Homo sapiens: one gene and its partners. The protein of the gene in region 4 purifies or fractionates together with the protein of the main gene of each other region. This does not show direct contact. Each region holds a gene or a part of one and is shown on either strand. Other genes may lie near its edges.

Evidence for each region.
Region 1: the proteins of MYO6 (region 4) and LRCH1 purify together in Homo sapiens (affinity purification with mass spectrometry; one large-scale study listed by BioGRID and IntAct). This does not show direct contact.
Region 2: the proteins of MYO6 (region 4) and COPB2 purify together in Homo sapiens (affinity purification with mass spectrometry, with the first as the bait; one study listed by BioGRID). This does not show direct contact.
Region 3: the proteins of MYO6 (region 4) and SGMS2 purify together in Homo sapiens (co-immunoprecipitation; one large-scale study listed by IntAct). This does not show direct contact.
Region 5: the proteins of MYO6 (region 4) and PICALM purify together in Homo sapiens (affinity purification with mass spectrometry; 2 studies listed by BioGRID and IntAct, with this or other methods). This does not show direct contact.
Region 6: the proteins of MYO6 (region 4) and CUEDC1 purify together in Homo sapiens (co-immunoprecipitation; 3 studies listed by BioGRID and IntAct, with this or other methods). This does not show direct contact.
Region 7: the proteins of MYO6 (region 4) and NHLRC2 fractionate together in Homo sapiens (co-fractionation; one large-scale study listed by BioGRID). This does not show direct contact.

Annotation. Positions count from the first base shown.
Region 1 is NC_000013.11:46,689,170-46,692,669, reverse strand, and holds part of LRCH1 (leucine-rich repeat and calponin homology domain-containing protein 1), read right to left. Parts: coding exon 3,474-3,500; intron 135-3,473; coding exon 29-134; intron 1-28. UniProt on the Homo sapiens protein: Acts as a negative regulator of GTPase CDC42 by sequestering CDC42-guanine exchange factor DOCK8. Probably by preventing CDC42 activation, negatively regulates CD4(+) T-cell migration.
Region 2 is NC_000003.12:139,365,648-139,369,147, reverse strand, and holds part of COPB2 (coatomer subunit beta'), read left to right. Parts: intron 1-859; coding exon 860-1,003; intron 1,004-2,002; coding exon 2,003-2,133; intron 2,134-2,372; coding exon 2,373-2,580; intron 2,581-3,500. UniProt on the Homo sapiens protein: The coatomer is a cytosolic protein complex that binds to dilysine motifs and reversibly associates with Golgi non-clathrin-coated vesicles, which further mediate biosynthetic protein transport from the ER, via the Golgi up to the trans Golgi network.
Region 3 is NC_000004.12:107,890,932-107,894,431, reverse strand, and holds part of SGMS2 (phosphatidylcholine:ceramide cholinephosphotransferase 2), read right to left. Parts: intron 1,366-3,500; exon of another isoform or gene 774-1,365; intron 1-773. UniProt on the Homo sapiens protein: Sphingomyelin synthase that primarily contributes to sphingomyelin synthesis and homeostasis at the plasma membrane.
Region 4 is NC_000006.12:75,755,739-75,759,238, reverse strand, and holds part of MYO6 (unconventional myosin-VI), read right to left. Parts: intron 1-3,500. UniProt on the Homo sapiens protein: Myosins are actin-based motor molecules with ATPase activity. Unconventional myosins serve in intracellular movements. Myosin 6 is a reverse-direction motor protein that moves towards the minus-end of actin filaments.
Region 5 is NC_000011.10:86,062,585-86,066,084, forward strand, and holds part of PICALM (phosphatidylinositol-binding clathrin assembly protein), read right to left. Parts: intron 1,293-3,500; exon of another isoform or gene 1-1,292. UniProt on the Homo sapiens protein: Cytoplasmic adapter protein that plays a critical role in clathrin-mediated endocytosis which is important in processes such as internalization of cell receptors, synaptic transmission or removal of apoptotic cells.
Region 6 is NC_000017.11:57,864,913-57,868,412, forward strand, and holds part of CUEDC1 (CUE domain-containing protein 1), read right to left. Parts: intron 3,332-3,500; coding exon 3,238-3,331; intron 2,781-3,237; exon of another isoform or gene 2,711-2,780; intron 2,504-2,710; coding exon 2,445-2,503; exon of another isoform or gene 2,426-2,444; intron 1,633-2,425; coding exon 1,565-1,632; 3' UTR 1,562-1,564; intron 1-1,561.
Region 7 is NC_000010.11:113,871,661-113,875,160, reverse strand, and holds part of NHLRC2 (NHL repeat-containing protein 2), read right to left. Parts: intron 1-3,500. UniProt on the Homo sapiens protein: Required for normal embryonic development.

The DNA of each region.
Region 1 (3,500 bases), on a different chromosome or scaffold from region 4:
CACTTTCTCCACATTTTTATTCTCAGACCTTTAACGGGGCTAAGGCGATGGCACGAGTCCTCCTTGATGATCTGTTCTTCTTCCATGATGTTTGACATTGGCACATTGAGGCTAACAGTGTCTTCGTCAGAAGGCTAAAAAGATACAGTGCACTGTTTAACTCAAGAGAAGTGTTATCAATGTAGATAAGGAGAATGCTATGTAATAAAACAACATCCTGTGATTCTCACAAATATCATATTGAATATAAGTTGCCAGATACAAAGGTCAATTCCACTTATGTAAGTTCAAAAAATGCAAAACTAATCCATGGTATTTAAAATTAGGAAGAGGTTATTCTTGGGGTCGGGGTGGGGCTTTCTGGGGTGCTGGTAAAGTTCTGTTTCTTGAACTGGAAGCTGGTTATACGGGTGTGTTCACATTGTGAAAATTCATGGAGCTAACACTTATGGGCTTCTCTGTGTTTTCTTCTCTCTGTTTTAAGCTGAAATCTTGTCAGGTACTGATACACAGTTTGGATGTATGTCCCCTCCAAATCTCATGTTGAAATGTAATCCCCAATGCTGGAGGTGGGGCCTGGTGGAAAGTGTTTGGGTTTTGGGGGTGGATACCTCAAGAAGGGTCTATGCAGTTCTTGCTATGCGTTCATGTGAGATCTGGTTGTTTGAAAGTACATGGCATCAGCCAGGCGTGGTGGCTCACACCTGTAATCCCAGCACTTTGGGAGGCTGAGGCAGGTGGATCACAAGATCAAGAGATCGAGACCATCCTGGCCAACATGGTGAAACCCCATCTCTACTAAAAATACAAAAATTAGCTGGGCGTGGTGGCACACACCTATAGTCCTAGCTATAAGGGAGGCTGAGGCAGGAGAATCACTTGAACCCGGGAGGCAGAGGTTGCAGTGAGCCAAGATCGCGCCACTGCACTCCAGCCTGGCAAGAGAACAAGACTCCGTCTTAAAAAAACAAAAAAAAGTGCATGGCACCTCCTCCGTTGCTCTCCCCCAACCTCGTTGCTTTCTTGCTCTGGCTGTCACCATGTGACAGGAGGCACTCCCTTCACCTTCAACCCTGAGGCCCTTGCCAGTAGCAGTTGCTGGTCACATGCTTTGTGTACAGCCTGCAGAACTGTAAGCCAACTAAACCTCTTTTCTTTATAAATTATCGACCCTCGGGCATTTCTTTATAGCAACACAAGAATGAACTAATACGGGTGCCTGTTTTATTTCTCTGTTTTAGGCTGAGGAAGCTGCATCACATATATAAAAATGCTAAACAACTGTAGTAGTTAAAAAGAACTGCTCTGTGTGATTTTTGGAAGAAAGCTTCGGCTTTAATAATTGGATTAGTTCTCTCTGAGGGCTTCCTTTCCCACAGTAGCTGATGACGTTTATTCAGAAAACCTATGATTCTGAAATATGGAGCCTGGTTTATTTTCCTATGTCTCCATTTTACTGTTGCTACTTAGGAAATAGCTTTCCAAATCTCAAAAATCAGGAACCTCCACAAAACACATTTCAGGAGATTGTGGCTTGCTCCTAAGTTCTTGAGGTATGGTTTTCAGAGTCTGTCCTTGTTTACTTTTGGACATATGCACAGATTGTTTAGAAACTGGCAGAAATTAGGCATGCATTTCATTCATTCAACAAATATTCATAGAGCTCCACACTTTCCTGTTTATCTTGATAAAAAGATGTTTTTAATCTCTCAGTGACAAATGCTAAATCAATCAATGGCAGCAGCCAAAGAAAAAGAATGAGGTGTGATCCCTGAACCCCACAATGTCATCTAAATGGGAAGTAAGATCACCTGATCATAGATGGTAAAATCTTTGCCAAACCAAGTGAAAATAGGAAGCTATGTAAGATAATTTGGAACACTTATCACTCTAAAAAATAAATTTCTTGGAGGTGTACTTAGGAAAGGAGGCTGTAATATAAGACAAGGAAAGGCCAAAGGCAAGATGTGTGCATTTCATTCTGTTGAATATAATCTTTTCTGTATTCCCTTCTCTTTCTACCCACCTCTCATCTTAAAAATTTAGCAAAATTCCAAAGATATGCATCTAATTAAAAGGCACAGAATAAATCCTTGGGCTCCTTTTAGAATGATATTAGCATCCTACTTATGCTTAAGTGACAACAAAAGGATAATGAAGTTCTTTATGTAATGTTTTATTAATGAGTTTAATTAGCCTTAGAAGAGAGATAAAGCAGAGTCTGTTTAATTTAACAGAAAATATACTTAGGGTGAGTAATTTCTGAAACAATGGTCCATTTGCGAGGACTTAGGAGTTGAAGAGGATGAATTAAAATGCAACTAAAGCAATGTGTTTAGTATCCCCTCTCTCCCACTGAAGCACGGTAAACTATTCATGTGCCTTCCTATGGGTTATTTTCTTTTATTGACACTGGCCTTCTCTGCCTACTAACTCTTCTTCTTTTCAAAATGCTCTATATTAGAAGGATTTTTAAAGATAAAGAATCCCACTTTTTAATATACTGCTATATAGAGTATTTTGTGAAAAATAAATTCAAATACCTTAGCTACCTATTAAAATTCAACGACTTGAGGAGAATTGGAGAAAGGTTTTTTTCCTGGAGTCATACATAGAAAAAAATGTGAGTTTCTTTGATGGGGTGACTGGCCTATTAACTGCAATTTCACAGTATTATAATGTTAACTTAGTAACTACAGAAAGTAACTTCCCTCAAAAAAAGAAGAGCACCTGATACTTTTCCTACCACTCCTTTCTAGATCCCTGAGGCCAAGAAGCTCCATTTAATGATACATTAGTGTTAGATTTTGGGGACTCTAATAGACTACATGTGAGATAATAAATCAGTTATCAAAGCATGATTTATAACCACTATAGGAAGTTCTAATGTGTGAGGCCTGTTAGCTTGCAAGTAACCAAACTTGTATCCAATTAACTGAACAGAACAGAACAGAACACAATCTAAGAGTCTGAGGAAAACAAACATTGTTATAAAAACTATAGCTACTCATAAATGCATTTCCTGTGGATCAACTATTAAAATAAAATGTACAGTTGATTCCTTAACATTTACGCATATGTATAACAATGTTTTTCTAAATTACTCTATTACTGAAAAATAAGCGTATGTATAAAAGTGCTTCACGGGCACTTGCGTACTACTTAGCCATTTTGTAATATTTATTGAGCACTCAATAATATTTTAGATAATGTGTAGGAGAGGAGAAGATACAGACTCCACTCTTGAGGCATTTACAAAATATTAAAGATATTAAAGATGCAGAATAAGTAACAACAGCTAATATTTATATAACACTTCGAGGATTTCAAATCACATGAATATACAAATCACTTTTACGAATATCACATGAATATACAAATGAATCGATGCCCTTTAACAGAAAGGAGTTCAATGAACACTGGTAGATATGTCTAGAAGTACAGAAGGAAAAGAATCTGATCACTAACTTTACCTCGGTGGCAGATAATCGCTTATCTCC
Region 2 (3,500 bases), on a different chromosome or scaffold from region 4:
GCCATTTAAAATATAAAACAGCACTTAGAATTTAAATAACTTCTTATACTTTTGAAATACACATTGTCTACGGCCTCATTAGGATACAACAATCCTGATTTTCTGAGCAATTGGAGGTAAGTGGCAGTGCCATTTTGACAGGAAAAAAGCATGCTTTGAGAACAAGAAGTCAGAGAATTCTTGACTTGGAAATGCCTTCTTCCACATAGTTCAGAAAACCTTTTCATACATTTTGATGATAGCTGCTTGAACTTGAGGTGACCATCTCCAGTGACAAAGTGTTTACCTTTAGAACTGCCCGCTGCTTTGACAGTTTTCACTGTCAGGAGATTATCTTTGGAAACAAACCAGCTTTTCTGGGGTCTGGTTCTAGAGCACGCATCCTCAGTGGGTGTAAACATTGACTTGGGGGCTTACTCTTTATGAATAAAGCATAGCTATACATATGTATATGCATTATATATGTATATCTGTGGTATTAAAATTTCATTGGGGGAGGTGATTAGAAAAATGTCCAGAAAGACTTCTAGGGAGGGTGGGTGAAAATGAAAAAAATAAAAAAGGTGATAAACACTGTTCTAGAGCAAGAGGGAATAGGCTACTGGTCCTCTGTGTAGCACATTCAGTGTTTACTGACAGCTCTCCTTTCCTGTCTCCCTTTGGTCTTTCCATTGCTAGGCTAAATAGCATAGCCACATAATAGCTGGCCACCCTCCCAAATAATGCCACATAAAATTGTTAAGTGAATACTTATCATCTTGATATAAGAAGGTAAATGTTGTAAGAAACCAAGTATGTGCAGTTTGTCATATCCACTCAGAAATCCAAATCAGTTGTCTATGATTTTGTTGTGTTGCAGATTTTCTGGTCTGACTCTGGAGAGCTAGTCTGTATTGCTACTGAGGAATCATTTTTTATCCTTAAGTATCTGTCAGAAAAAGTCTTGGCTGCACAGGAAACACATGAGGGAGTTACTGAAGATGGCATTGAAGATGCCTTTGAGGTAATTGCATCAGCACAACTTTCGCTTTCAGCTTTGTTTTTAAATGATTTATATTCTTACAACAGACTTTACTGATTTTAACATTTCGTTATAAATTAGGTGTAGGGAGACAGCATTTAAGGATTTCTGGTGAAATGTGAAAAATTAAAATCGTAACTCATAGATCAAAATTTAAAATAAATATGTTTAAAAGAAATTTGTACTTTGATTTTAAGAATTCTTTAGACTTACTTTGATATCTTTCAGTAAAGAAATTATAGTTGTTTTGGTCCTAAGACTATTTAGTCAGTGATTTAAATAAGCTCCCAAATGGTAAATCATTTATTGTGCAGATGTCCTAGATTTTGTGAAATACTTAATATTTCATTGTCATGTTATGAAGGGTCTAAGTTTAGATCAGTATTCTTTTATATCATGATTTTGACCCAACAATGAGATTTCACATTACAAATACTAATCTAGGAATCTGTTCTGTGTTTTGTTTTGTTTTTTTTTCTGTTTTGAGCCTAAGGGTTATATTGAGTAGGAATCTGTTCTTAAATGAAGAAAGAAATTCCAGCGGGGTGCAGTGGCTCACACCTATAATCCCAGCACTTTGGGAGGCCGAGGTGGGCAGATCACTTGAGGTCAGGAGTCTAAGACCAGCCTGGCCAGCATGGTGAAACCCTGTCTCTACGAAAAACATAAGAATTAGCCAGGCATGGTGGCGGGCGCCTGTAATCCCAGATACTTGGGAGGCTGAGGCAGGAGAATCACTTGAATCCGGGAGGTAGAAGTTGGCAGTGAGCAGAGGTTACGCCACTGTACTACAGCCTGGGCAACAGAGACTTCATCTCAAAAAAAAAAAAAAATTCCAAGGAAAATTTTTTTTTTCTAGAAATAGGAAGGATTTTACTTTGCATTCCTTATTCTGCCATATCACCCTCAGATATATTCAGCTTTTTATTGAGAGATTTCTGATGTTGGATAAAGTAATTGTCTTTATTTTTCTTTCTGCAGGTTCTTGGTGAGATTCAGGAAATTGTGAAAACAGGGCTTTGGGTAGGCGATTGCTTCATTTACACAAGTTCTGTGAACAGATTAAATTATTATGTTGGAGGAGAAATAGTCACCATTGCCCACTTGGACAGGTACCTGAGTATCATTTTGCATTTGTCCTAAATTTTAAAGTGTGTTTAGAAAAATCTGTTGCTGGCTTGTAGCAATGATAGGCTGATTTTTCAGTGTTATAGTTTTAGTAGGTTGCCTATTGTTAACCAGAATTGTGTCAATCAAATGGGAAGGTTTTGAGCAAGAGGGAGATTGGCGGGGTGTGTGTTTGTGTAATTGCAGATTTGAATTTCTAACTTGGTTTCTGTTTCTTTTATAGGACGATGTATCTCCTAGGCTACATTCCTAAAGACAACAGGCTTTATCTGGGGGATAAAGAATTGAACATCATTAGCTATTCCCTGCTGGTTTCAGTCCTGGAATACCAGACAGCTGTCATGCGGAGGGACTTTAGCATGGCTGATAAGGTCCTTCCTACCATTCCAAAAGAACAGAGGACCAGAGTTGCACACTTTTTGGAAAAGCAGGTAAGAGGTTTTGTTTTTTTCTTTTTGTTTTTTAAAACTTGCAATTTGAAAGCAAATTATTATGGAGTTGAAAAACTTTATTTCTTAATTGCCAACTGATTTCCTGTGGCAATAGAATTTCTCCTGTGAGTTTAAGGCACTTATTACAGCACATGATACACCCTTCTTACACTCTTCCTTCTCCTTTCTCAGTGCCCCCTTTAAATGTTGGAGGTGATTTTCAGTCTTCCTTTTCTGTGCACTTATTTTCCAGTCTCCTGATATTTTCATTTCTACACTGCATTTTTAGCTTTATCCCATCTGCTTTTTAAAAAAAAATGATTAAAATACATATAAAATGTACCATGACATGACTTTTTCTTATGTAATGTTTTTTAAGCAAAGTTACATATGTGCAAAGCATAAAGTAAGTTTTGCAAAGCTTAAGAAAAAAATCAGCCCTCCTTTTTGCTTTCTACTCCCTAGAGGTAATTATTTTATCTAATTCTTTTGGTATTTATTTCCATATCTCTAAATAACTTGAGGTATAGCAGTTTCTTCATTTCTTAGCTTTAGGCATTTCTTGTGACTTCCCCCTCTGTAGAAGATGAGAATTTCGCCTTCTTTCATTCCCCTGCGTCTACCACATACATGCCACTTTCCTATCCTTTATCTCTCAGAATAGTTCTAATTTTGATTGATCACTACTCAAATGTTTACATTATTATGGCTATGTAATCACTGCTCACAGGTGAACATGTAGCATATTATCTAGCTTTCCTTTCCTGCAATTGTTTGTTTTCCCTAGTTTATAATTGTCTTTTTCCCCCCTTTGCTTAATTTTCTATGTACCTGTGGTTAATTCTCCCTGGACTTTGCTGGTTCTCCAGAGTTCCTGAAGATCTCCTTTCAGTTTGCTTAGTCTCCTTCAGACTGCACTG
Region 3 (3,500 bases), on a different chromosome or scaffold from region 4:
GGCTCCAGAGAGCACACACTTCTTTCGGACACGGGGCACCACTGCCACCTCTTTTATACTTGCTAGCACACAGCCCCAGCTGTTCTCAATTTAGGAGAGCAGTCTTTTAGTCCTGCTACAGAAACCAGCCACCTGATGAGGTTTTCAAACCTCGTAATTAGTCCTCTCCCTGGATACACTGCTCAACTTAAGCACAATCCACTGCATTTTAAAGGACCTCCCCCCTCCCCTGCCTCCCCGTTTCAGGGTAACTTCAGGGAAAACTGAGGAGGACAAACTCAAAGTGATGACAGCTAAGCCTTTATTTAATGAAAGAAAAAAAACACAGCGAAAATGGCAGTCAATATGTACAGGCAATGTCTGTTTACAATTATGGGTGGCAAATAGATAAACCACAAGTGTTTACTGTGCACCTAAATGCCCCAGTGCTGAAGGCTATGTAGGGCAAATTAAAAGGAGTGAAAAACACCTGACCTGAACATTCAGCCAAAGAGCTTGCAGTCTAACCAAAGAGACAGGACTAAAATGATGAAAGACTACTGGAGAAGACTGAATGGCATATTGTGAAAGGAAGGAGAGGGATGAGCTGATCACTAGGTAAAGTGAGAGGTTTAGCTGTACTGTTTCCCTGCTCCAGGGACAAGATGTGTCCACACACAGGCTCTGTTTCTGAGAAAGCAAAAGCATGTGGAAAGCTGGCCTGGTAGAGAAATGGGGGATAAGGGAGCATGAGACTAGCTAAAAGGTACTACTGAGAATTATAAACATCTCACCTTTCCCTTGTCCTTCTGCAGAGCCCCCAGCTATCAATACATTACAGCAGGATGAGAAAGACCCAGGCCTTTGACATCCCAGGCTTTGACAGGCCCAGGCTTGACAGTGTCTTGGCACAATGTTGTGGGAAGAATAAGCACAATGAAGAGGTGCCTCAGGAAGGTATTTTCAACAACAAACCTTCAACACCATGAACTGCTACTTCTAACGGAGGTCCGAAGCACTAACACAGCCATTTCCTGTCTCTCTTTAGCAGCCTTGCCTAATCCACTTACAGCATCTTGCCAAATCATCATCCAAATTCCCTTCAACTTTACTCTTCCATATGTGCTCCTAGTCTTATGTTCATGTGGGAAAGAAGCTTGTGATTTTGAAACTCCATTTCACAGTGGATGTACAGATGGTCTTTATAAGGTAGCTACTCGGTTCTAGAACACAGAATGTGGAACAGAAGAAAATCCAATTAGTAACCTTTTTTCTTTTTTTTTTCCAAGAGGACACACTCAGCCACCCACCTCATGGGACTGCTATGAGAATGACTGAAATAATTAATTGTGAAGAGCTTTGTGCCCCTGGGAGTAAGAACACTATGTGAGTACAATGCCCATTTATCGTTATTAGTGTTAAAATTAATATTTTCCTTGGGATTTCATTAAGATTAAATATACATAGCACATTCATCATGTGTGAACAAATCTTGGGACGAAATGTTTGTCATCAAGATAATGATCACAACATATTCATTCCTATTTTGAAAGGAAAATATCTCGGGGTCCCAAAATCACTCAGCTAAAGGAAAAAGTCAAGCTGGGAACTGCTTAGGGCAAACCTGCCTCCCATTCTATTCAAAGTCACACATCTGCTCATGGAGATAAATGCATATCTGATTGCCTTCTTTGGAGAGGCTAATCAGAAACCCAAAAGAATGCAACCATTTATCTCTTATCTACCTATGACCTGGAAGGCCTCTCCCCACTTTGAGTTGTCCCACCTTTCCGGACCGAACCAATGTTCATCTTACATATGTTGATTGATGTCTCATATCCCCCTAAAATGTATGAAACCAAACTGTGCTCTGACCACCTTGGGCACATGTCTTCAAGACCTCCCGAGGCTGTGTCATGGGTGTGCAACCTCAACCTTGGCAAAATAAACTTTCTAAATTAACTGAGACCTGTCTCAGATTTTCAGGGTTCACATTTTGGTAACCACAGAGGGATTCTGAGTGGAGGTGCCCCTGACCTTTAACAAATCTCCTATCAGTGCTTGGTTCAACCTTGGGCTATCTTTATGGCTTAAACCAATAGGACAATTTGCTGAGGCCTGGAAGCACCCATTCCAGAGAATCCCTGATCTCCCCAATTCTGGTTGAGATCTAAAGTTTATTTTGCTGTACAACCTTTTTTTTTTTTTTTTTTTTTTTGGAGTTTTAGTTGCTTCCAACACAAGGCAGGCAAGTTTTTCCTGCTTCCATGATGATGGAAGGTAGGTAACTCCTTTACGGAGTTTCCCTTCCAACAGGGAAGATGAGGTTTTTTTTTTTTTTTCCTGCTCCTAGTGACACAGGAGATAGAAGTTATTTAGGCAGATAGTGAGGGTAAGAGTTCTTGGCAAGGCTTCCCTTCTAACAGAAAGCAGCCCGAGAAACTTCTTTTGTCTAATGAAGAGCAGCCTGAAAAATTGAGCTGCAGACATAGATAAGCAAGCTGGAAGCTTGCACAGGTTACTGCCAGCAGCTGTGCCAATACAAAATGGCTACCTGGGGGCCAGGTATGTTCAACGTGTAGGCTCCATCTTCCTTTTTGTCACCATGTGTAAAGAAACAGGCAACATGGTGTGGGCCAGGAAGATAATCCATTTGCATAATAAAACATTAGGGTGGGGGTGGCCAGCTTTTTGCACCCTTATGCAAATGGCACACCTGGTCCAACCAATCTTTCATGCCCTATGTAAATCAAACACCACCTCCTCAAGCTCATCTATAAAACCTGCATTTCACTGAGGAAGCAGAAACCCATTTGGGACCCCTCTCTCTGCAGGAGAAAGTTCTTCTTTTCCTTTTGCCTATTAATCCTCTGCTTTTAACCTCACTCCTTGTGTGTCCATGTCCTTGATTTCCTCTGCATGAGACAATGAACCTCAGGTATCACCCCAGACAACAAGGCTGCTTCACTAGGATAGAAAGCAGTCTTCAGCCTGAGACCCAACAACCCCTAGATAACTAAATTGGGGTTTGTCTTGGCTAAAGTTAAAATCAACAACCAGCTGGTCTTAATGTCTTTACCATTAGAGTGCTCAGTAATCATATAAGTTGTGCAATCATTTTTTTTTTGCTTAACTGTTTTTTTTTATTGTTTCTCTTTTTCTTGTTGTTTCAGTCTTTTTCCCATTGGGTTTGACCAACTTCTTCCGACTTGATCAAATCCGAAGGAAAGTTCCAAATTATGGGGAACAAGGCCACTGAAGTGGCTAAATTCTCATAGACACACACAAAAAAGGTAGTATGGTAAGGTGGTATAATGGGGGGGAGAAAAACAGCCAGAAAAAGGAAAAAAAAAGAAAAAAAAGGAAAGAATTTTAATTTTGACTACTTAAGGGGCTTTATTTACATAACAAAGCCACCTTTTTGCTAGCCAGGTCAAACTGAAAGCAAAGGCAGTCACCTCACACTGCATTTCAATAGCTAGGGTTCTGCCTTTTTTTTCCCACCATGACAGCCTGAGTTT
Region 4 (3,500 bases):
CATTATCTAAAGAAATCTAAGTTTTTGAAAGTTTTTAAGATCTATAGAAATGACCGGATCTATAGAAACGGCCGGGCGCTGTGGCTCACTCCTGTAATCCCAGCACTTTGGGAGACTGAGGCGGGTGGCTCAGCTGAGGTCAGGAGTTCGAGACCAGCCTGGCCAACATGGTGAAACCCCGTCTCCACTAAAAATATAAAAATTAGCCGGGCATGGTGGCACATGCCTGTGATCCCAGCTACTCAGGAGGCTGAGACATTAGAATCGCTTGAACCTGGGAGGGGGAGATTGCAGTGAGCTGAGATCATGCCACTGCACTCCAGCGTGGGCAACAGGGTGAGACTACATCTCAAAAAAAAAAAAAGATCTATACAAACATGTATTTATACATTTTTACTATTTGTATAATCGTTAAAAATTAACAATTTTAACTAATATTAACTAATCACCTCCGAATGAAGCTAGTTAAAAAGCTGAAACAGGCCAGGCGCGGTGGCTCACGCCTGTAATCCCAACACTCTGGGAGGCCGAGTCGGGCAGATCACGAGGTCAGGAGAGCAAGACCATCCTGGCTAACACAGTGAAACCCCATCTCTACTAAATAAGAAAAATTAGCTGGGCGTGGTGGCGGGAGCCTGTAGTCCCAGCTACTTGGGAGGCTGAGGCAGGAGAATGGCGTGAACCCAGGAGGCGGAGCTTGCAGTGAGCTGAGATGGCAACACTGCACTCCAGCCTGGGTGACAGAGCGAGACTCCATCTCAAACAAACAAACAAACAAAAAGCTGAAACAGTCATTACAATCTAATTTAGGTGCGAAATTTAACACTGCATTGTCTTCTCCATACAATGCTATAAGCCCCAAATAAGCTTTAAAAAAAAGTCAATGAAGAGATTCTGGTAACATATTTCACTTCCCTCTACCACATACTGCCTGGTTAACCCAAGCAAATTGTCGTTAATCTTGTTGAAGCCCTCCCTAACCAAAAGATAAAGAAAAAGTTTAAGCTAGTAGTTCTCTAATTCCAGTTTGCACATAAATCAAAAGGGAAGCTTGCCAACATAGTGAAACCCCGTGTCTACTAAAAATACAAAAATTGGCTGGGCATGGTGGCACGTGCCTGTAGTCCCAGCTACTCGGGAAGCTGAGGCAGGAGAATTGCTTGAACCTGGGAGGCAGAAGGTGTGGTGAGCCAAGATCGCGCTACTGCACTCCAGCCTGGGCAACAGAACGAGACTCCATCTCAAAAAAAAAAAAAAAAAAAAAAAGCCAACTTCAAGATTCCAACCAAATCACTAATATATTGCTCTTCTTGCTTTTCGATGAAAATTCCACATTAAACATGACAAAAAAAAACACAGTAACAACAATAATAATGAATGTACACTATGTGCTAGCCAGTGTGATCTGTGTTTTACATGTATTATTATCTAATTCAATCCTCATAAGAACCACACCAGGTAGGTAATATTGTTACTTCCATTTTATAGATGAGAAAACTGAAGCCTAGAGAAATGAAATAATTTGACCAAGTTAATGAGTGACAAAACCAGGATTGCCTCAGGTCTGCCTATCCTCTTACCCAGGAGCTGGACAAGAAAGCACTGTGCTTAAACGCAACTCTGGAACCCCAGGGCTGTCAGAGAGAGGATTAAGCCTGACGACCAAGTAGTTAGGCAAGTAATACCCTCCCATCTCCTTCCAACCCCAATTCCCACCCCTCACCCAACAAGCTATCCTGACTCCCCACACCCATCACTCCCACACCAAGGTCGCCCACCTCTGTGATGTGTCACACATCCTAGCAGAACATCAGAAGTCTGTCTCTATGTGTGTGTGTGTATATATATGTGTATACATATATATACACACACACACACAGACTTCTGATGTTCTATATGTATATGTATATATGTTCTATATGTATATGTGTGTGTATACATACACACACATATATTGTGTATATGTCTATATACATATATACACACACATATGTATGTATGTCTATATATGTATATGTATATATGTCTATATACATATATACACAATATATGTGTGTATATATGTGTGTATATACATACACACACACAACACACATAAGTACTCTTGTATATACATATATACACATATATACACAATACATATTGCGTATACATATATATACACACTATATATGTGTGTATACATATATACACATATATACACACTATATATGTGTGTATACATATATACACACTATATATGTGTGTATACATATATACACACTATATATGTGTGTATACATATATACACATATATACACACTATATATGGTGTGTATATATATGTGTATATATATATATATATACACACACAACACACATAAGTACTCTTTCCACATTAGTATCTACTACCTGCTTAGTACTAGCAGAGACCCAAATTCCAGCACCACCAAATAAGCTTGAGCAAATTTAACATCTCTGCCCCTCAGTTTCCTAATCTGTAAAATGAAGGTCATAACACCAGCACCACTGAGGTGACACAGTGATTGAGCTAATGTATACAAAAATACTCACTTGGCATAATATCTGACATGGTAGTAAAAGCTCAATAAACAATAGCTGCTATTGGCCAGGCACAGTGGCTCATGCCTGTAATCTCAGCAGTTTGGGAGGCGAAGGCGGGCAGATCACCTGAAGTCAGAAGTTCGAGACCAGCCTGGCCAACATGGTGAAACCCCACCTCTACTACAAATACAAAAATTAGCCAGGCATGGTCGTGAGCACCTGTAATCCCGGCTACTCAGGAGGCTGAGGCAGGGGAATCGCTTGAACCCGAGAGGCGGAAGTTGCAGTGAGCCAAGATTGCACCACTGCACTCCAGCCTGGGTGACAGAGCGAGACTCCGTCTCAAAAAAAAAGAAAAAACAATAGCTGCTATTAAAATTATACTTTGCTAACCTCTTCTCTTACAACACCAACATATCAGTCCTAGTCCCATTTGTTTTTTGCTTGCTTGTTGTTTTTTTTTTTTGAGACAGAATCTGGCTATGTTGCCTAGGCTGGCCTCAAACACCTGGGCTCAAGCATTCCTCCTGCCTCAGCCGCCTGAGTAGCTAGGACTACAGGTAAGCATCACCGTGTCCAATTCTAGTTCCCATTTATTTTCTCTCAGTTTTCTTTGCTAAAAGTGTGATAAATGATGGAACATACTTATATTTATCAAAGCAGGTTGGTAACAGCGCCATAACCCAATAGTCTGGGAGTCTTCGACAGATAGGTCAGAAATATTCCAGAGCAAGTAAGTCATGCAGTAGCCTTTAAATTGCACAATTTTGACAACTGCCTATTTCCCAACTTTAGGGTCAGCCCTGTTGATTACATCCTAGTATGAAGAGTCTATAATTAACTTAATTCAAAACAACAATAAAATGTCAGTACAGGGGCTTGGTCTTAATTTAATCACTGTATCCCTAGAACTTAGAATAGTGCCTGGTCCGTGGTAGACACTACAGTACGTTTTA
Region 5 (3,500 bases), on a different chromosome or scaffold from region 4:
TCAATTTTAACAAATGTACCACTTTCGTGGGGGATATAATATATCTTGATAATAATATAACTTGAGAAATCCTTCATTTTCTGATAATCTAACAAATCACAACTCTGAACATAATTTTTAATACAAAGGCTTAGGTTCATCAAGATTCTCTTTTAAAGAACTATCTAACTGCCCAAAATGATTCACATACACAGTGAACATACAAAATACTAAAAGGTCAAGTCCAAAATTTTGATTCTCTAGAGAAACGTATAAAGCAGTTTAACTGGGAACATACTAAGACAGAACACAAAGTAACGGAAATGCCACTTTAGCTACCAAAAGAACAGGAAGAGCAAATACTAAGACTTTACTTTGAAAGTCTAAGGCTACTTCTTCCTGGTAGGGCTCTAACCTCTTGCCAAGAAGCCTGTAAGTTTATTTTTCTTACTTCTTTATTTTAAGTGAGAAACCATGAAATTAACCATTTCAGAGCTGAAGAAAACAAAGGAGAAACAACTATGTCTACGGTGAACTTTCACATTAACTATTCTAAATGATTATCATGGCCAAATAAACAAATATTTTTAAATGAAAGCAATTCTGATTATTAAAATAGATTATTTTTAAACAATCAGTGTTTTTTAAACATCAAAGTAAATGTTTCATATAAATGTCTCACAAAGCGTATGAAAGAAAAATGTCAATCACATCTTATGAAGTGTTTCACTTCTCACCTGCCATAGTAACTTTAAATTCAAAGACACCTTTAAAAATTATCCAGATATATAAAATATTCAGTAAACACAAAAGGTATATAGATGCCCAAAGTCTTATACTATTTCTTAACATAGCAAATAAATCCATCAGGGAACAATAATTACAAAAGTATTTCAGAATTCATTTGCTAATTATGAATAAGCGGCTACAAAAAATAGTTGAATATTAAGTTCTCTTTAGAGTTCCTCTTTTAAAACACATACTGTTCAGAAACTTAACTAGACATATCTGGGAGGAAAAAGGATACATTTGTGAATTTTATTATATACCTCAGGCATTCTGTTCTGCCATGGCGACAGAAAAAATAAAAATAAATAAAATGCCTCAGGCATTTGACATGTGTGATCAAATCTTACTCATTACTACCACTTTGATAACTCTATTTCTATTTTCTGTATTGCAAAACTACTAAAAGACTAGTAAGGATAATGAAAAATGAAAATATAAATCATATGACTAATTCTTACAGGAAAGAATAGGAAGCCCAGACATTAATTACAAAATAACTGTCTTCTTAAAACAAGATCCTTTTGGAAAAAAAAAAAGTCCCAGTTACCTTACTTTTAAATAAAAGATATCCTGGGACAGATCTTCTACTTTATTTCTTCCTTACATGCATCTTCTTAGAAATCACATCCTAGTTACCAGATCCTTCTTGACAATACGCAAACTAAGCACCCATAAGATATTATTAACTGAGACATTAAAAACCATTTGTGCTTTAAAAGGGAATTAATTCAGGTACAGTCTGGTATGTTATACGCATTTTTAATGTAGTTACACAAACCACTAGCCCAAATACAAATTCTACATATGCAAAATATTCAAATCCTACTTTTTAAAAACTTATTTCCAATTTCTAGATCCAGTTCACAACATACAAATAACCATGCTGTATCGACCAGAGATATGTTGATAATGGATGCTTAGTAAGAACTTGATCTTGATTTTGTTTTAGAAAAGATAAGGCAGTGGTTGAAATGAAATGTCCCTGTAAATTAACTGGGGAAAATATGAATTAAAAAACAGAGACATACAGGATATGGTGACTCACACCTATAATCCCAGCACTTTAGGAGGCTCAGCTGGTAGAGAGGATCCTTGAGCCCAGGAGTTTGAGACCTGCCCGAGCAACACAAGGAGACCCTGTCTGTATAAAAATTAAAAATTAGCTGTGCGTGGTAGCAGATGCCTGTGGTCCCAGGTACTCAGAAAGATTGTCTGAACCCGGGAAGTCAAGGCTGCAGTGAGATGTGATTCCACCACTGCACTCCAGCCTGGGCAACAGAGTAAGACCCACCTCATTTTAAAAAAAAAAAAAAAAAAGGAGACATTACAGCCATTAGTATAAATATTACATTTCAGTGAAATATGTCAAAATATAAATGTCCAACGATAGTAAATAAGAATAAAGAAAATTAAGAATTCATATCAAAAAATAGGATAAGGGCCAGGCATGCTGGCTCACACCTGTAATCCCAGCACTCTGGGAGGCTGAGGCAAGAGGATTACTTGAGCCCAGGAGTTCAAGACCAGCCTGGGCCACATAGGGAGACCCCCATCTCTCCAAAAATAAAAAGTTTCTTTAATTAACCAGGCGTGGTGGCACATGCCTATAGTCCCAGCTACTTGGGAGACTGATGTGGGAGGATTTCTTGAGCCTGAGGAGGATAAGGCTGCAGTGAGCCATGATCCTGCCACTGCACACCAGAGACAGAGCAAGACCCTGTATCCAAAAAAAGGGGTGGGGTTAAGACTAAAGATTGTAAGATCAGATAAAAATGATTTTTATATTAAGAAGTTATAAATTAAAAATTGTGGGCCAGGCACAGTGGCTCACACGTCTGTAATCCCAGCCCTTTGGGAGGCCGAGGCGGGCGAATCATGTGGTCAAGAGATCCAGACCATCCTGGCCAACATGGTGAAACCCCATCTCTACTAAAAATACAAAAATTAGCTGGGTGTGGTGGCATGCGCCTGTAGTCACAGCTACTCAAGAGGCTGAGGCAGAATCTCTTGAACCTGGGAGGCAGAGGTTGCAGTGAGCCAAGATCGCACCACTGCACTCCAGCCTGGCGACAGAGCGAGACTCCGTCTCAAAAAAAAAAAAAATTTGTTTTTTCTATCCTGCAATAATTATGGTTCTTTTAAGCATTCTGTACTGCTAAATGGAATTAGAAGCTACTTTCTATGTATATGAATTGCCCCCACCTCCAGCTGTGAGACAGGATTAAATGAGATGATGAGAAAGTGCCTGGAAAACTGAAGTTCTTCAAATATAAGGGCTGCTATTCCTCTACCTTGATTATGGCTACTAAAGGCCTAAGATTAAACGGAAATCGTGTTTATTTTTACAAACATATTTCAAGTTTGACAACTCTTTCACACTAGGGATGCTAGTCAACACTATTATCCACTAACACCTACAGTATAAGCAAAGCAAAAAAATCTTTCTTCAGTAAGTATATAATGTAGTATGAATTAAGCCATAATTCATGAATTATTAATAATCACTTCCTAATGTGGAAAGATCTTGGCGAGAAACTGACAGAAACCACCTCCACACTCTAAGGGCTTATACGAAAAACAACAGTCCTAAGCATATTTTTTGTTAAATGCTGCCATTTTAAAATGAAATCATTTTCATTAGATTCATATAAATAAGCATCAGTTGCTAGGGGCATTAAAAGGTGCACATAAACTAAGCTTTCACTATAAAGAAAAATTCCTAAAAGACAAAA
Region 6 (3,500 bases), on a different chromosome or scaffold from region 4:
CAGGCAAGATAGTGGGTGCCTATAATCCCAGCTACTCGGGAGGCTGAGGCAGGAGAATCGCTTGAACCTGAGAGGTGAAGGTTGCAATGAGCCAAGATTGTGCCACTGCACTCCAGCCTGGGCAACAGAGCGAGACTCTGTCTCAAAATGAATGAATGAATGAATGAATGAATGAATGATGAGCAAGTTTCTGATGTAGGGGTGGTTTGGACAGGACCCGTTCTCCCTGGGGACCAGTAGGAAGGAGAAGGGCGTGGAGATAGTAGCAGCGTGGGGTGACAGTGGAGGCGATTCCCCGGCAGGCTCTATCTGGGCATTCCAGGACAGTGGGAAGTGGGCCGCGGCTTTGTGTTTGAGGAAAGCCTGAGGGGAATAGAAGGGGCTGCAGTGCCTGGTGGGAGATGTGGTAGGGAGTCAGGTGGAGTGGGTGTGGGGGCCAGCTGCCCAGGCAGAGAGGAGAGGGCACTTGTATTTACTTGTTCCCGGTTTCCCTCCATTGTGACTATCCTGAGGCAAGTGAGTATTTCTCCATCGTCTGACACAGGGCCATACCTGCCACACCATCAACTCAAGAAAGCCTTGTAGATGCTGCCCACTGGGACCAAACAAGTGGCTGGGGAAGGCCGGGCAGCTTCCCCTCTCCCATGGTAAACGGGGGCTGGAAAAGGGACAGCTGTCTTGGCCAACTCCTGGAGGAGGCCTTGGTATTTTCTTTTTCTCCCCAAGAGGGTGCACAGGAAGCGAGGAGGAGAAATGGCTTGGAGCCCTGGGGCTTCAGCCAGAAACCGCTGCCTCAGGAGGGTTTCCTCATCCTGGTGTGGCAGATCCCAGCCCACCCAACCCAAGCAGGGGGCTGGAGAGAGTTGTGTGTGTGCACAGCCGGGTTGAGACCACCTCAGTTTTTCTTTTTCTTTTTTTTTTTTTTTTGAGATGAAGTTTCACTCTTGTCGCCCAGGCTGGTGTGCAATGGCGCGATCTCAGCTCACTGCCACCTCCGCCTCCCAGATTCAAGTGATTCTCCTGCCTCAGCCTCCCAAGTAGCTGGGATTACAGGCGCTTGCCACCACGCCAGGCTAATTTTTGTATTTTTAGCAGAGACAGGGTTTCACCATGTTGGCCAGGCTGGTCTCGAACTCCTGACCTCAGCTGATCCACCCACCTTGGCCTCCCAAAGTGCTGGGATTACAGGCATGGGACACCGTGCCCAGCCAGTTTTTCTTAAATCATCCTCTCAGTGTGCTACGTGTGTCCTGGACTGTCTTCTCAACTGGACTGTAAACTCTTCAAGGTCAAAGCTGATTTTGTTTTCCTGTTCTCAGCATCTGTCATAGGCAGGTGTGCTCATCTTTTGTCAAATGAATAAATAACCAAAAAAGACATGCAATGAACTAGTTCCCACGCCCGTGTCCCTGCCGCAACTATGAGGGAAGACACGTGGGGCCTGTGCTACCCAGTTGCCTGAGCCCAGCGCCTCTGGACACCTGGGAGGACATGTGGGGTGCATAGTGTGGGGGGCCCTGGCCTTGGGCAGTCCCTGGGTTGCTATGGCTCCAGGCCTTACCTCTTACTGTCCTTCTCGCAGGCCTTCCTCCACCTTGGGTGCCTCCTGACGCCTGCCCCGGAAGTCTTCATCTGAAAAGGAGAGGGAAGCTGCCTCATCCTCTACCCTGCAGGGCCTCGCTCAGGCACGGCCCCTAGACTGGGCAAGAGAGCTGACCCGACTCTCTCTGCCCCCTTCATTTGGGACCCATGCAGATCCCCCCAGGTAGACGATGCATGGGTCCAGGGAGAGAGGCAGCAGGACACTCAGGTGCTGGCCAGGGTCCACCACTGAGCTCTGAGACCTTGGACAAGTTCTCCCCTCGTCTTTGGGCCTCAAATTTCCTCATCTATAAAATGGGATGGAAAAGCTGGACTATCTAGATGACCTCTGAGGCCCTTCCAGTCCTTGTTTCTGGATGCCTCCTGACCCTCGAATGTGGCATGAGGATCAGGGTTCAGCTGCGGGCCCAGGAGGGTCTGAGGCAGAGTCTTCTGGCCCACGTGGCCTTTGGAAGGGACTGGGTGAAAGTTGAGAAGCCTCTGGGCCCACAGACTGAAGCTGCCCAGTGCTTGGTTCTCAGGCCGAGGGTCCCCCATGGGGGCAGGCCTGTCTGCCACCTCACACCCAAAAGAATATTCCCCAGAAACAGTACCTGGCACTTCATGCTACAGGTACACATCTAGGTGGAAGTAGGGCTAGGGCCCCTTTTCAGGGGTTGCAGAAAGGGGGAAGCAATGTCGACCAAGTCAGGGGGATCCATATCTTTGGGTCACCTGCCCACCAACCCTCAGTGTGTTCCTCCAGGGGACAGGGCGGGTGCTCCCATGAAACACCCAGGAACTCCGCTGGGAGATCACCGATCATAGAGAAGTTGGAGCTTACGACTCCCCTCCAGCCTCACCACACGCGTGGCCCTCCACATCATCCAGGAGGTTGGCTGTTGACGCGGCAGCCCCCAGCCTGCCAGGCCATTCAGGAAAACCGTCCCAGGGATGAGGGGACACTGCCCTAGTCCTCCCAGTCCCACTGACTCTCTGCCCCACCCCTCAAAGCTCTGGAGGTACCTGACACACCCACCTGACCCCCCACACCCTTAGTACTGTCCCCCAGGCTCATTTTCCTGAGGTCAGTGGTATGGCCAGGCCCTGACACTCTCGCCCAGCTTACATCTCTGGGGATGGAGAAACAGCTTCCTCCCTGTTTCCCTCTGGCTGCTGAGCCTCTGCTATCCTAGGCCCTGTTTGAGAAGCATGAATAGGAGTTCTGATAAAAAGGTGGAAAGCCGTATTTCTACTCGAGGAAGGGAGGGCCAACATGCTTGGAGTGAGGAGGACTCGTGCACCAGTTCAACTAGAGAAATGAAGGGAAGGTTTGATATTGATGGAAGAACCACTTTTTCTCCCAAGAAGTACATAACCTCAGACCAAAAAAAAAGTTAATAGGACAACTTCTGGGCCTACAGAAGGGAGACAGGAGCTGCTGCCCTGCTCCCTAGGCCTGGTCCCTGGTTGGCAACGAGAGACGGGCAGTGGACTGGTGGCCAAGCTCATGGAGGAGAGGGGAGGAGGAAGGGAAGGCCACAGAGCCGGGTTCCACTCCCAGGGGAGGGCACAGCTGCAGGGAGTCCAACAGGGGTCTTGCTCCATGGCCCTTGGCTTCCACCACCCCCACCAGTGCCAGGCTGGAAAGGATACGACTGATGCTTCAACAAGTGTTTCCTCTTTGACTTCCTCATTTTGGTCTTCTCTGAGAAGGCTCGGGCAAGTTCAAACAGTTTCCTCCGGGTGGCTGGGGGCAGAGAGACCTGTGAGTCATTCTCTCAGCAGCCAGCACACCAGATGGCCTCCTCCCAGGTGTGGGAAAGGCCAGGGGAGGACCAAGGCCCCCCGGAGAGGGAGCAGGGGGCAGGCAAGGGTGGGAGCTGAGGAGGGAGAGATGACAGGAATCGCAGACCCCT
Region 7 (3,500 bases), on a different chromosome or scaffold from region 4:
CAGAGTTCACATATCGTCACATTCCAACGTCCAGGATACAATAAAAAATTACCTGATATTCAAAGAAAAGAACAAGGAAATATGGTCAGTTATCAAGGTAGGGGGCAAAAAAAACAAGCAACAGATACCGATGCCAAGATAAAGCAGATGTTCGACTTACCAAAGACTTTCAAGCAACTAGATAACTATGCTCCATGAGGTAAAGAAAAACACAAATGAAGTAAAAAGACAGGAAATAAAAACAGAGAAATGGAAATTATAAAAAGTAACTAAAAATGTTAGAACTGAAAAATACCACAAGTTCACTGGATGATCTCATTGGCAAAAAGGACATGACAAAGAAAAGGTTAATGAACCTGAAGACAGCTCAACAGAAATTAATCCAATCTAAAGAACATAAAGAGAGAAAGAAGATTGAAAAAAAATAAACAGAACCTCAGGGACCTGTGGAACAGTTTCAAAATATCTAAATAAGTATACTGGAATCCCAGAAAAAGTGAATAAATAAGATTGGGGCAGAAAAAAATAACTGAGTAATGTCCCAACTTTCAAAATTTGATTAAATATATAAATTTAGAGAATTCAAGCTCAACACACACAAAATAAAATACATTAAAACCATGTCTAGACACATCATAAACAAACTGCTGAAAATCAAAGGCTAAACACACACACACACACACACACACACACACACACACACACACACACACACACAAACACATGCCTTGAAAGCAGCTGGGAAAAAAGATGCAATGAGGAATGGTTGCCTGGGGGATGTGGGTAAAGGTGGTGGGGAGGAGTGGGAAGGACTGCACACCTGTTACCTTGGGCAAGTTACTTAACCTGTTCATCTGTTTTCTCATTTGCAAAACGAGGAAAATAACAGCAAATGCCTTATAAGTCAGGTGGATTAAAAGAGATAATCTGTGTAAGGCATTTAGCATAGTACCTAGTGTAGAGTAAAATTTCAACAAATTTTGCTATAATTATTTTTTAAAGTTGTAAGTACAAAGATTAATAAAAGATAAATGTAAACATTTATAAATATCAGAAGAGATTATGAAAATAAAACAGCAAAGAAAGTGCATCATGTTGATAAACACAACAAATATAACCAAATACACATAATACTTGTACATTACCAGTCATATGAATAAGTACCAATGGGCTTAACTCATTATTAAAAGAAAAAGATTTGGATAAGTTCTTTACATAAAAGATACATCTAAGAAAATGTGAATCAGAAAGACTAAAAGTAAAGGGGTAGAAAAAGATATGCAAGGCAAATGAAAGCAATAAGAATATAAGGGTTGTAGATCTCCTCCTTCCGCGTCTCTAATTTCTGGGCCAGATGAGTGTTTTGCTCCACTTCATCATCTAAACTAAAGCTTACATGGGTTTCAGTTTATCCTTGCAAGTTCTAGTTCATGTTTGCACGTTCTTTCTGGTTTGCCCTTGTTCTCTGCTACTTTATATCCATCTTTCCTTCTCAACTGCCTGACCTGCCATCAGGAGATATAATTTGCCAGTAATTACAACTTTAATTCCAAACCAAAGCACAAGAACATACGCACACACACCTCTGCTTGAAGACTGTGAAAAGTTAGTAAACTTAGGTAGGTTGCAGGAGCACACAAAAGCAACAGCCTCACATATACTAGTTAGCCATGTAGCTCCACAATAACATAAGGTCAACTACCTATAATGAATTCTCTATTAGTTCTCTCATTATTATACCCAGTTGTGCTTCTCTGATCAAACTATGACTAATATACCAAAACTCTACATCTTAGTTTTGGTGTTAGCTCTACATGTATAAAATCTCCATCCATCCATTAGCAGTTTCCCTACTCACCCATGGTTCTCTAGCTCTCCCTATAGTAGATTCACCAGAAAGGGCACATGTGCACAGTATTCTCTGAGTTTTGGGACATTCAAACTGTTTTTCTTTAACCTTGATTGATTCTTGAAGGACAAATGGTTGGATATAATCTCTTTGGTTTATGGTTTACACTCATTAAGATTCCTGAAATGTCACTCTACTGTTGCCTTGCTTTGTACGTTATTTGTGAAAAGCATGGCCAGTCTAACTTACATGTCTTTGTAAGTTACGTTCTTTGTTTTTCAATGTTTAAAGTATAATAATTTTACTAGGATACTTCTTGGACTGTTCTGGGTCAATCACCCCCGGTACCTGGTAGGCCCTTTCAATATGTAGATTCAAGGTTTCTTTTCTTTCCAGAAAGTTTTCTTGGATTCTAATTTTAGATATTTGTTCCAGTCAGCTGTTCTGATTTTCTTGAAGGTCTCCAAGTAGTCTTATGTTGGACCTCCTCTGCCTGTTTTCCAATTCAATCATTTTTTTCTCTAAACCTTTTAACTTTTTTTTTTTTTTTAGCTCATTTTCATTCTCTGGGGTTTCCCTCCCTGCTTTTAATGCCCCTTAATAAATTTTTATACAAATTTATTGTCCCTTGGTCAAATTTAGTTTTCATTTGTAATACAATTTTGAATTTGTCTTCTCTTTTCTGGATTCAATTAACACTCATTTCCCTGTTTCTTTTTTGTCCATTTCTTATTTTGAAATTTCTGATTCAAGCTGTTTTTTTTTCATTATTCCTAAATGCTGACTAAGGATATTTAATCCAGTATGAAGCAAGGTGTTACAGTTTTGTCAATTTTGTATCAGCATTTTAACTCTGAATTGCATTTTCAGCTTCTTTTGCAGTAGTTTTTATATAGATGTGATCTGCTTTTTTCTATTCCTGTTCATTTTGCGAATAGGGTTCCTAGTTTGAGAGTGCCCTCTTCTGACAGTTCCCTTTTTCTGGGCAGTTTCATTGATGAATAGCATTGGTGTAAGGAGGGGTTGATATATCTTCTTTCTCTTTTGTTTCCATTAGAACCTTACCTTTTCCTTCATATACGCTTTTTTCCCTTCAGTGGCCTATCTCCAAGGGAAACCACATCTTTCTTATATAGCTGATTATCTCCCAGGAGCAATGCTTCTCTGAGGCTTCAATTCCTTGTCCTGCACTCTTGTAAGAGCTGGTGATATGGTCTAGTATGTCCAAACCTGTGTTCAGTATTTTATACTTTGTATTGGAGCTTCTCTTTCTGGGGGTAAGGAGACTATTCTGTTTGTGCGTTGTCTAAATACTCTGAACCACTCTGCTTGTTCTCATGGAGTCTTTTAAGTCTCCCCTACACTTGTTCTTGGCATCCACAGACTTACAGCAATAGAACCTTTATGGGAATTTAGTTTATTTCTGAACTTCCATCTAATGTCAAGGCCATGATATTCTCTGTCTCCTAGTATTGTGAAATGCAGGGCCAAGTGAGATTTTACTTGTTCTCCCCTTTTTTATTGTTTGGAACAGAGGGGAGGGACAGTGGGGAGATTCAAGATCAGGTAGCCACCATCCTCCTCCAAACCCAGAAGTAGCACAGATAGATTCTTTTTAATCATTAGGTTTATTGACATATAATTACTTACA